2 separate regions of the Homo sapiens genome follow, and region 1 is linked to region 2. Evidence: fine-mapped expression QTL. Tissue or cell type: whole blood. Region 2 holds a variant in brackets; the other region holds the start of a gene. All regions are shown on one strand. Distances are from middle to middle.

Region 1 (5,150 bases), 86 kb before region 2:
TGTATTTCTCCATTGCAGACCACTTTGTACCTACCTGTTTAATCAACATCTTCCCCTCTTGAGTCTTGGTAGGGTCTGGATCTTTCAGCTCTGTTGGATGCTCATGAAGTGTAACCAAAGTTTCCCTTCCTTTTTTTTTTTTTTTTTTTTTTGAGACAGGGTCTTGCTCTGATACCCAAGCTGGAGTGTAGTGGTGCGATCTCAGCTCACTGCAACCTCCACCTCCCTGGCTCATGTGAGTCTCCTGCCTCAGCCTCCTGAGTAGCCGGGATTACAGGCGCCCACCACCACACTCGACTAATTTTTGTATTTTTAGTAGAGATGAGGTTATACCACATTGCCCAGGCTGTTCTTGAACTCCTGGCCTCAGGTGATCTGCCAGCCTCGGCCTCCCAAAATGCTGGGATTACAGGTGTGAGCCACCGCGCACGGCCAGTATTTGTTCAAATGATTTCTCTCCACTTAGGGGAGAGAGAAAAATAGGGCTGGACTACCTGCACTTGGCAAGGGCAGAGTGGCAGAGTAGACTTGCCTACCAGCGAAGCCAGACAGCCTTTGGTTCCAATCTTAGTACTACCACTTTTCAGCTGAGGAACCCCAGCAAATTGTGAGGCCCCCGAGCCTCAGTTTTCTTATCTGTAGAATGGGGATAATGATGCTCTCCTCATAGGATTGCTTAGCGCTGGGTAGGTCCTTAAGGAATGTCCATTGCACTCCCATCCCTCTACAGCTTCCCCCAGATTCTGTCCTCTTAGGAGGCATGGGTGTCACTGGAACATGAGGAAGAATTCCCTGGATCCTTTTTTCCCTTTCCTCACACAGAAGCCAAACCTCAAATACACATCTTCCCTCTCTGTCCACACCCACAGCAGCAAAGAGGAGAGCCAGGGATCTGGGGGTGGGGGTGGGGGCCCATCTTCCTCCTCTCAGTGGGTGGGGGCTCGCAGGCTGACTGGCAGAGGACCTTCACTGGAGTCAAAATAAACTGCCTTCCTGGGGAGGGGATAGAGGGCGAGAGAAGCCGCAGGTATTGTTTTGTGGGGGAGGGGGGTCCTCTTCCTATTCCATTTCACTGAATTCTTCCCACCCGGCATGGCCCTGGGAGGTGACCATAGCCCTGGCTCCCCGAGTAAACACCCAGGTCAAGCTACAGGACTGACTGGGTCTTAAGCTATTATACTCCCAGTGAAAAGATTTTTTTAGCCCGAGGACTATCTCGAACTCGTTCTATCTCAGTGAATGACTCACTGGAAACGGTGTAAACACAGGTGTATTACTGGCCTGCGGAAGACTTGGATGTCCCAGCATGGTAGAAGGCCAGGTCCCTGCAGTGCAACGCTTGCATTCTACATCCAGAAAACTAAAGTTCAAAGAGGTTAAGCAATTTGCCAGAATCCTGCAGTCCAGGGACTGAGCGGAACCTGGAATCCGCCACCGGGACTTCCAGCCCTGCTCCCTCCGGCGCCACCCTCTTCCCAGAGGTAGGGAGAGCTGAGGCTCGCTGTGCTCACGTGGCTTTCAGAGCCCGCCTCGGACCCTGACCTGTATTCCACTCCCGACCCCACACTTCCTCGTTTCCCCTTCCTTCTCCCTCTCTTCCCAGGGTCCCGCAGGGCCGGCTGGATGAAGTGATGCCGGGCACCTATACACGCATGATGGCAAAAGGAGGATTGCAACGCCAGAGCTCGCCCCTCCAGAGCTGTGCAGGGTCCCCACCGAGGAGGGGGTGCAAACGGGTGCTGGGCTCGGGGGTCAGCCCGCGCCAAGTCTGGGGCTGGGGGCGGAGCCTGCCGGTCCGGGGCGGGAGGGTGGGCAAGAGAGGGAGTCCCGGGGCCTGGAGACTTTGGAGGAGTCGGGGCCCTGGGGGTAGGAGACCGCCGGGTGGGAGCGGCAGGCGCAAGCCGGGCGGCGGGGCGCGCGGGCCAGGCGGGGCCGGGCGGCGGCAGGGACTGCGGAGGTGCGGCGTGAGCTGGGGCGGGCGGCGTCACCGGAGGCGGAGGGGGCGGAGCCGCGCTCACAGCTGCCACCCGGCCGCCGGGCCCAGGCAGAAGCCACCCGCCCGCGGCCGGGCACGCACCGCGCGCAGACCTTCTGCGAACAATGCTCCGGCCGGGCGGCTGGCGGCTCGGAGACCGACGGAGGGGCCGGGGGAGCGCAGCCCAGAGGTGAGCCCGCGACGCGCTCTCCAAATTCGGCCTCTTTTTGTCTGGCGAGCGTGGTCGCAGAGGGGAGCTTTGGAGGGGCGCTGCGATCGCCGAGCGGGCTACCCCCGGGGTGACAGGCGACCGCTCGGGAAGTGGGCAGTGCCGGGGCCGCGTGAGCCCCGGGTGGTGCCCGAGGTGCAGGGAGGCGCCCGGCCGGGAGGACCGAGGAGCTGGAGGGTGTTTTTGATTCATTCGAGAATCGCGCTCTTTAAAACGGGGAAACTTTCCTACGAGTTCCAGGAGGGAGGACCGACTGTTAGGATGGTTTCTCTGGTCTTGCTGCTCTGTCTGCGGCCGGAGGCTGAAGCGCTTTGAGGACTGCTTTCCACCGCTAGAGTATTGTCAAGGGGGAGAGACGGAAGGCCGCCTGGCTGCTGGGACCAGGACCCGGGGGGATGGTTTGGGGGTGCAGGGTATGCAGCAGCGGGGCTCCAGAGGCAACGAGATGATGCCCTTTTCCCCGAGCCCTGGCTGAGCCCTCTGAAACGCATGCTGTGAGCACGTTATTAACCTTTGCTGGTATCCGGGGACACACACACTTAGAACATAGAATCCTCTGCTGGGCATGGAGGCGGCCGGGCATTCGCAGCGGAGAGCGCCAGCTCACGGTGTGTGCGTTTCTCTCAGGTAAGCTCTCCCTGCACATGGTTTTGCAGAGCCGATAGCAAAGCCCAATGGTCTAGGGGCGAGGAGTTTTGGCGATGCATTCAGTGCGGAGTCAGGCTCAGAAGGCTTTCCTGATCACTGGCCTGAACTATTCTTAACAACTCCTCTCCCCTTCCCTTTCTGAGAAGAAAATTTGACAGAAAGCCCTAGGGAATTCCGCAGTTATTTTTCTCTCCTGAGGTCTGGTTGGTTTCGACTGTAGTGGGTGCAAAACCACATTCCTCCCTCTGAGATTTTCTTTCCTCCAGCACTGGAGGAAGAAAAAAGAAAAGGAAAAGTTGGGTGAATATCGTAATTTACCCTCTGCGTGAGTAGGGAGGCAGGGGGCTAGTGGGTGGTAAAGTTGTCACTTTCTCCTTTCTGCCTGGTCAGCCCTGGCCAGTGGAGTGTGCTGAAGTTCAGACACTTTCCACACATATTTCTTTCCTTTTACTGGCGTTGCATTAATTTAACTGTAACATACAGAAAAAAATTTTAGGTGAATGTTTTCTGCAATTCTGTCACTTCAGAATAAGGCATAAGCAACTTCTGATGTAAGTCTGAGGGGGTATTTTGGGCCAAAATATTTAATCTTAAAGATCTGGCCACCTTGATTCTTCAGATTCTTTTTTGAAATGGGGTGGGAGTGTATCTGACAGCTTCAGTCTTGCAAACTGTAGCCACAAATCTAGTGCAGAAGTTTGCAGAGGCAAAGACATTTTTTTCATGACTTGGATCAGAAAGAATGCTGAGCTCTTTTTTCTAATCTGACACTGCAGCCTCCTACTGAAATGGGGAGGATTTGCATAATTCTGGGGGCTGCCTCCCCTCAGAAGTAAGGAATGTGGGCTGCGAAGTGCCTTCCCCATGCTGTGGAGAGCTGGCACTGCTGCACCAGGCAAGGCGAGGCAAGGCTTTGTGGGTGCCACTTGTGTTTCTCACCATCTTTTACTTAAAACAAATAGGAGATAATTCCAGGCACAGAAGTGCAACGGGAAAAGAGGTTTTTTTTTTTTTTTTTTTTTTTTGGCTGCATGCGGTGGTAAATTCTGTTTGCTGCGACTGAGAAACCAGTTTTAACAGGATGCAGTGAGTCAATGACAGTGGGAAGCCCAGGGCTTCATTTGTTCTTTTCTTATTCAATGACTTCCCTTTAAAAATCTTTGCGTCCATCCGTCCCTGGCAGTCGTGTGATGAAAGTTGCCTCTCTAAACATCCAAGGATTTCTGAGCTGAGAATGGGAGCAAAGAGTGCTCGTAAACTGATGAGACATTCTCAAGGAAACTTCCCCCACGCTAGCAATCCAGATCCTTCCACACTCCCTTTGCACAGGGCTGTGCAAAGGTTGGGGAATCTTAGAAAGTAGGGCCTCTGATACCAATGTCACCCCTTCCGCAAAAACAAGTTTGTGTTCTTACTTGCCTGTTGAGGAGGCAATAAGTCGCCAAGCAGAACTGCTGCTTTGTGAATCTGTGATAGACCCTGAGGAAGTGGTTGGGCACCCACCTCCTCAGATAGCCCAGTGTCAGGAGGAGCTGTGGGAACTTGCAGAGCCCACACAGAGCTGGTTTCCAAACTGTCTTCCTCCATCCCGCGGAGCAGGCATGGGAGCATCTGCCTGCAGTGGAGGTGGGCTGGACAGTGTCCTTTCTGTGGCCTAGAAGGTGTAGACAGTCTTCACCCATCAGCGTCCCAGGAAGGGACCTACTGCCTATTCCTGAAGGCTGGAATACTTCCTCTGCTTTTTCCCCCTCCCAAAACTTAGCAGCAAGGCTACAGTTCTCTGTGGCCTGAGATTATAAGAGAAAGACAAAACCTGGCTATTTCCTCCGCTTGTTGAAGCCCAGTGACCTCTTCTGGAGAACTTGGCAAAGAAGGAACCTGCTACTTGGGTGTATTTGGAGGAGGAGAAGAACCTAGCTAACAGTCTTCTTAAAGAAAAGGACCTGTGAGACCCTAACAATAACTGCTAAAAGATACTTTTCTTTTATTTCAGAGGATTTATTTAGCTTAAAGATGCAGTGGGCTTTATTCTTAACTTTTTTTTTGTTTTTTTAGACAGGGTCTCACTCTAGTCACCCAGGCTGGAGTGCAGTGGTGTGATCATGGCTCACTGCAGCCTTGACCTCCTGGGCTCAGGCAGTCCTCCTACCTCAGCCTCCCAAGTAGCTGGGACCACAGGCATGCATGGCTACACCTGGATAGTTTTTTTAAATAATTATTATCTTTGTAAAGACAGAGTGTCTCTGTGTTACCCAGGCTGGTCTCAAACTCCTGGGCTCAAGCGATCGTCCTGCCTCG
Region 2 (5,150 bases):
AGACTAGGTGGTCTCCAGGATGTCCAAAAAACAAAAAGAAGGTTAGAAGATTTATAAAAAAAGAAGAAATGTTACATATTGCTTTTTCACAAAGTTTATTGGTGCTAGTAACTGTTTGGGGAGATTGCAAACTCTGATCTGTGACCGATGGCAGTGGGCATAATTAGTCCTAGAGTTGCAGCAAGTTATCACCAAAGGTATAAATAATACTGGTTTCAGGTTACCACAAGCAGTTACAGCAGTCAGGCTTGCAGATAATTGTGTTCTTTAAACAGTCTTTTGTACCCTGAGTGTCTTTTCCTCTCTGGCTTCTGGTCTCTGTTTTAGTTGGGTATGACAAGTATGACCCAATTCTTATGACCAACTTTCACATCTGTTACGTGATCTGTAATCGGTGTGATCTTTGATGCTTTTGGTTGTAATTGTTTTGCAGCATAACAAATCATGCTCACATTAGATTATTAATGGATAAATGTTGTGTGTGTTCTGAGAACTCCACTGACCACCTGTTCCCCCATCCCTCTGCCTCTTCTTGGCCCTCCCTATTCTCAAAGGTGCAACAATATTAAAATTAAGCCAATTAACAATCCCACAATGACCTCTAAGTGTTCAAGTGAAAGGAAGAGTCACATGTCTCTCACTTTAAACCAAAAGCTAGAAATGATGAAGCTTAGTTTCATAATAAGAAATTTCAAGTCTTTTTATTTAAGAAATACAATTAATAAGGCTATACTGCCATAGATAGAAGAAGGTATGCTGAAAGCCAAGATAGGCCAAAACTGGGCCTCTTGCACCAAACATCCAAACTGTGAATGCAAAGAAAAAGTTCCTGAAGAAAATTAAAAGTGCCATTCCTGGGAACACACAAATGATAAGAAGTGAAACAACCTTATTGCTGAGATGGAGAAAGTTTAGTGGTCTGGATGGAAGATCAAACCAGCCACAACATTTCCTTAAGCCAAAGCCTAATACAAAGGAAGGTGCTACCTCTCTTCAGTTCTATGGAGGCTGAAACAGATGAGCAATCTGCAGAAGAAAAGTTGAAAGCAGAGGTTGGTTCATAAGGCTTAAGGAACTAAAACATCTCCATAACATACAAGTCCAAAATGAAAGCAACAAGGGCTGATATAGAAGCTATAGCAAGTTATCCAGGAGATCTAGCTAAGATCACTGATGAAGGTGGCTATACTAACAACAGATTTTTGATGTAGATGAAACAGCCTTCTCTTGGAAGAAGATGCCTTCCAGGACTTTTATAGCTAGAGAGAAAAAGCTGTTGCTTGCCTTTAAAACTTCAAAGGACAGGCTAGCTCTCTTGTTAGGGGCTAATGTAGCTGGAGACTTCAAGTCGAAACCAATGCTTATTTACCATTGCAAAAATCCTAGGATCCTGAGAAATTATGCTAAATCTTCTCTGCCTGCGCTCTATAAATGGAACAGCAAAGCCTGGTGACAACACATCTGTTTACAGCATGGTATATTGAATATTTTAAGCTCACTGTTGATATCTACTGCTCAGAAAAATATTCCTCTCAAAATATTACTGTTCACTGACAATGCACCTGGTTACCCAAGAGCTCTGATGGAGATGTCCAAGGAGATAAATGTTGTTTTCATGCCTTCTAACCCAACATCCATCTGCAGCCCACAGCTCAAGAAGTAATTTTGACTTTGAAGTCTTATTATTTAAGAAACACATTTCATAAGGCTGTAACTGCCATGGATAGTGATTCCTCTGATGGATCTAGGCAAAATCAATTGAAAACCTTATGAAAAGGATTTACTATTCTAAATGCCATTAAGAACATTCTTATTCATGGAACAGGTCAAAATATCAACATTAACAGGGGTTTGGAAGAAGTTGATTCTAACCCTCATAGATGACTTTGAGGGGCTTACGTCTTCAGTGAGGAAGTAGCTGCAGAGTTGGTGGAGATAATAAGAGAACCAGAATAAGAAATGAGCCTGAAGATGTGACTGAATTGCTGCAATCTCAAAATAAAGTTTGAACAGATGAGAAGTTGCTTCTCATGGATGAGCAAAGAAAGTGGTTTCTTGAGATGGAATCTACCGCTAGTGAAGACACTACGAACATTGTTGAAATGACAACAAAATATTTCAAATATTACATAAATTTGGTTGATACAGCAGGGGCAGGATTTGAGAGAGTTGACTACAATTTTGAAAGTGCTATTACAGATAAAATGCTATGCAACATTCTTACACGCTACAGAGAAATCTTTTATGAAAAGAAGAGTCAATCAATGGTGCAAACTGCGCTGTTCTTATTTAAAGAAACTGCCATAGCCACCCTCACTTTCAGCAACCACCATCCTGATCAGTCAGCAGCCATCAACATCAAAGCAAGACCCTCCACCAGAAAAAGATTACAACTCCCTGAAAACTCAGATGATCATTAGCTTTTTTAGCAATAAACTATTTTAAAATTAAGATGTGTATATTTTTTCAGACATAATGCTATTACATCCTTAAGGGAGTAGAGCATAGTGTGAACATAACTTTT[A/G]TATGCACTGGGAAACCAAAAAAACCTTATGACTTGCTTTATTGAGGTATTTGCTTTATTGAAGTGGTCTGGAACTGAACCCACAATATCTCTGCGGTATCTCTGTGTAGATATGCTTTCTTTTCTCTTGGGTAAATACACAGCAGTAGAATGACTGGGTCATAAAGTAGGTGTTAGCTTAACTTTTTAGAACCTGCCAAATAGTTTTCCAAAGTGGTTATGCCATTATATATAATTGCCTGCTGTCTATGAGAGTTCCAGTTCTTCTGTGTGACTTGGCATGACCAGTCTTTATCATTTTAATTTTACACATTTGTGTGTGTTTCGTGTGTGGGGTTGGGGGAAGGATTTCTTGTGATTCCTTTGGGAGAGAGTCATTGAGGTGATAGGAACATTTTAAATCTTTTGATTCATATTGTAAATTGTTTTTCATAAAATTCTGCTTTCTGTTTACCTTCCCACCAAAGATTTCATCTTATTGGCCTTTGCATCTAAAATCCCCTTCATTTCCCTCCAAATTCCTATACTGCAAGTCCCCATGTACCATCCTTCAGTAGGGGTAGTGTGTGTGGAGAAGAAAGGTTTTGGGGGGTTTCTTGATATTATTGTTGGCCTCCACTATGGCCCCCTGCTCTTCCTCGAATCTTTTCAGGGGTAAAGATTTCAAAGCATGAGGTAGGATGGAGTTGATGAGGTAGAGATCGAGGAAACGCAGGCTGTGGTGGGAATGGGAAGGTATTGTTAATGAGCATCCAAGGCTGATTTCCAGACCATGAGCTGGCTTTTGCCCAAGAGTAGGATTTAACTGGAGTTCCTAAAAGCCTGAGCAGCTTTTATTTTTCTGTCTCTCGAGCACCACTTCACTATTTGTAATCACTTATGGATACTTTTTTTTATAATTGCTCCATCTATAATATCTTTTTGGAAAAATTCAGCCCAGGGGTTACATTAGAAGGCCATCTTTCATGTCGTTTCCAGTTTTATGGTTCTCCTGAGGCTGTTTTCCCTTAAAAAAAAATCAATGACTACTGCATGTGTCTCTTTCGCAGTGAAGGTTTCTGCCCTTGCACAGATGTTAGAGAACTTTATCATGGGTGCAGCCCCATCATCTTACCTGAGCAGTGAGCTTGGGGATCCACAAATTTATTTTTCCTGTCAAGTTTTAGCCCATTAGCATTCCTCGTATGGGGAGTTTGGCAGAATATGGAGGTTTATCTGCTTGGACAACTGGCTCAGCCCAACCTCTAAGGGACTGGATGGGATTACTCTTTTGAAACCCCAGCCAGACCCAGCCGAGGGCCTGCACGAAGGCTGATCCCTTTCCAGCCTGGCTAGCTCACACTGGGGTCTAGGCAGGGGAGTCTGACGTGCCGCCTTGTTTTGATGGTCACAGGGTGGCATGTGAGTTGGCTTTTTCTGTGCTTTGTAGGAGATGTGAGGGCCTTGACTTGGGGGAATATGGGAAGATACAGGATGAACTATTAATGACTGGATGCAACAGTTCTTTTAACTTACAATTAAAGTTATTTATTTGTTTATTTATTTATTTATTTATTTATTTTTAGAAGTGGGCGTCTCCCTCTATTGCCCAGGCTGGAATGCAGTGGCGCGATCATGGCTCACTGCAGCCTCAGACCCCTGTGCTCAAGTGATCCTCCCACCTCAACCTCCGGAATAACTGAGACTACAGGCACATGCCACTACACCCGGCTAATTTTTAAAATTTTTTGTAGGGATGGGGGTCTCACTATGTTGCCTGGGGTGGTCTTGAACTTCTGGCCTCAAGAGACCCTACGGCCAAATAGATGAATGAGTAAGATCTTCAATAACCACTATCAGCAATCAAGATTACTGAAGAGTCTCTGTCATGTTCTTCTTACCACCATCCTTCTGAAATATATATCGGGTTATCTCAGTCTATTTAGTATTGCTCTGAAGGGAGGCCTGAGACTGGGTAATTTAGATAGAGAAACATGTTTATTTGGCTTACAATGCTGGTGTCTGAAAAAGTCCAAGTTTGGGCATCTGCATCGGTGAGGGTCTCAGGTTGCTTCCACTCTTGGTGGAAGTTGGAGGGGAGCCAGCGGGTGCAGAAATCACATGGAGAGGGAAGAAAAGAGAGAGAGGAAGCGCCAGGCTCTTTTAAACAACCAGTTCTTGCAGGAACTAATAGAGAACTCACTCACAACCCCCTACAGGGAGGTTATGAATCTGTTCATGAGGGATCTGCCCCAGGACTCAGCACCTCCCGTTAGACCCCACGTCCAACATTGGAGATCAAATTTCAACTTGAGGCTTGGACAAACATCCAGACTATATCAAGTCTTTGTATTTAGCTAACACTTTGCTTCCAGAGGCTAAGCCTTTCTCAAGATCGCCAAACAGCTTACTTTAGGAGAGGTTTTCTTGAATTTTAGCATGAGTTTTCCCCTGAGAATGAACCCTCTGCTGTAGCTAGCGGTCCTTTCTTCTTTCCTCTTCTCACATTATCTTTCTCTCTCGCCCTCTTTGGCCTTCTCTTGATTTCCAGCTGCTCTTTGTCTCAACCCATTATTCCATGAGTGGGGAGACATTTCCGCTTATTAAAATCCCTCCCCCAGAGTTCCCCTAATCCAGAGGAATTATC

Evidence for each region. PIP is the estimated chance that this variant, and not a neighbour inherited with it, causes the effect.
Region 1: PRAG1 starts here. The variant in region 2 is fine-mapped to the expression of PRAG1 in whole blood (TOPMed, PIP above 0.99).

Annotation. Positions count from the first base shown.
Region 1 is chr8:8,383,336-8,388,485 of GRCh38, reverse strand. PRAG1 (PEAK1 related, kinase-activating pseudokinase 1) reads left to right here and starts at 2,047. Exons shown (of 6, transcript NM_001080826.3): 1 at 2,047-2,165. RefSeq lists a silencer at 1,665-2,344.
Region 2 is chr8:8,297,211-8,302,360 of GRCh38, reverse strand. No RefSeq gene overlaps it. Among named protein-coding and RNA genes, the nearest start is that of FAM85B, 72 kb to the right of the region's middle. The variant A/G (reference allele first, on the strand shown) is at 2,525.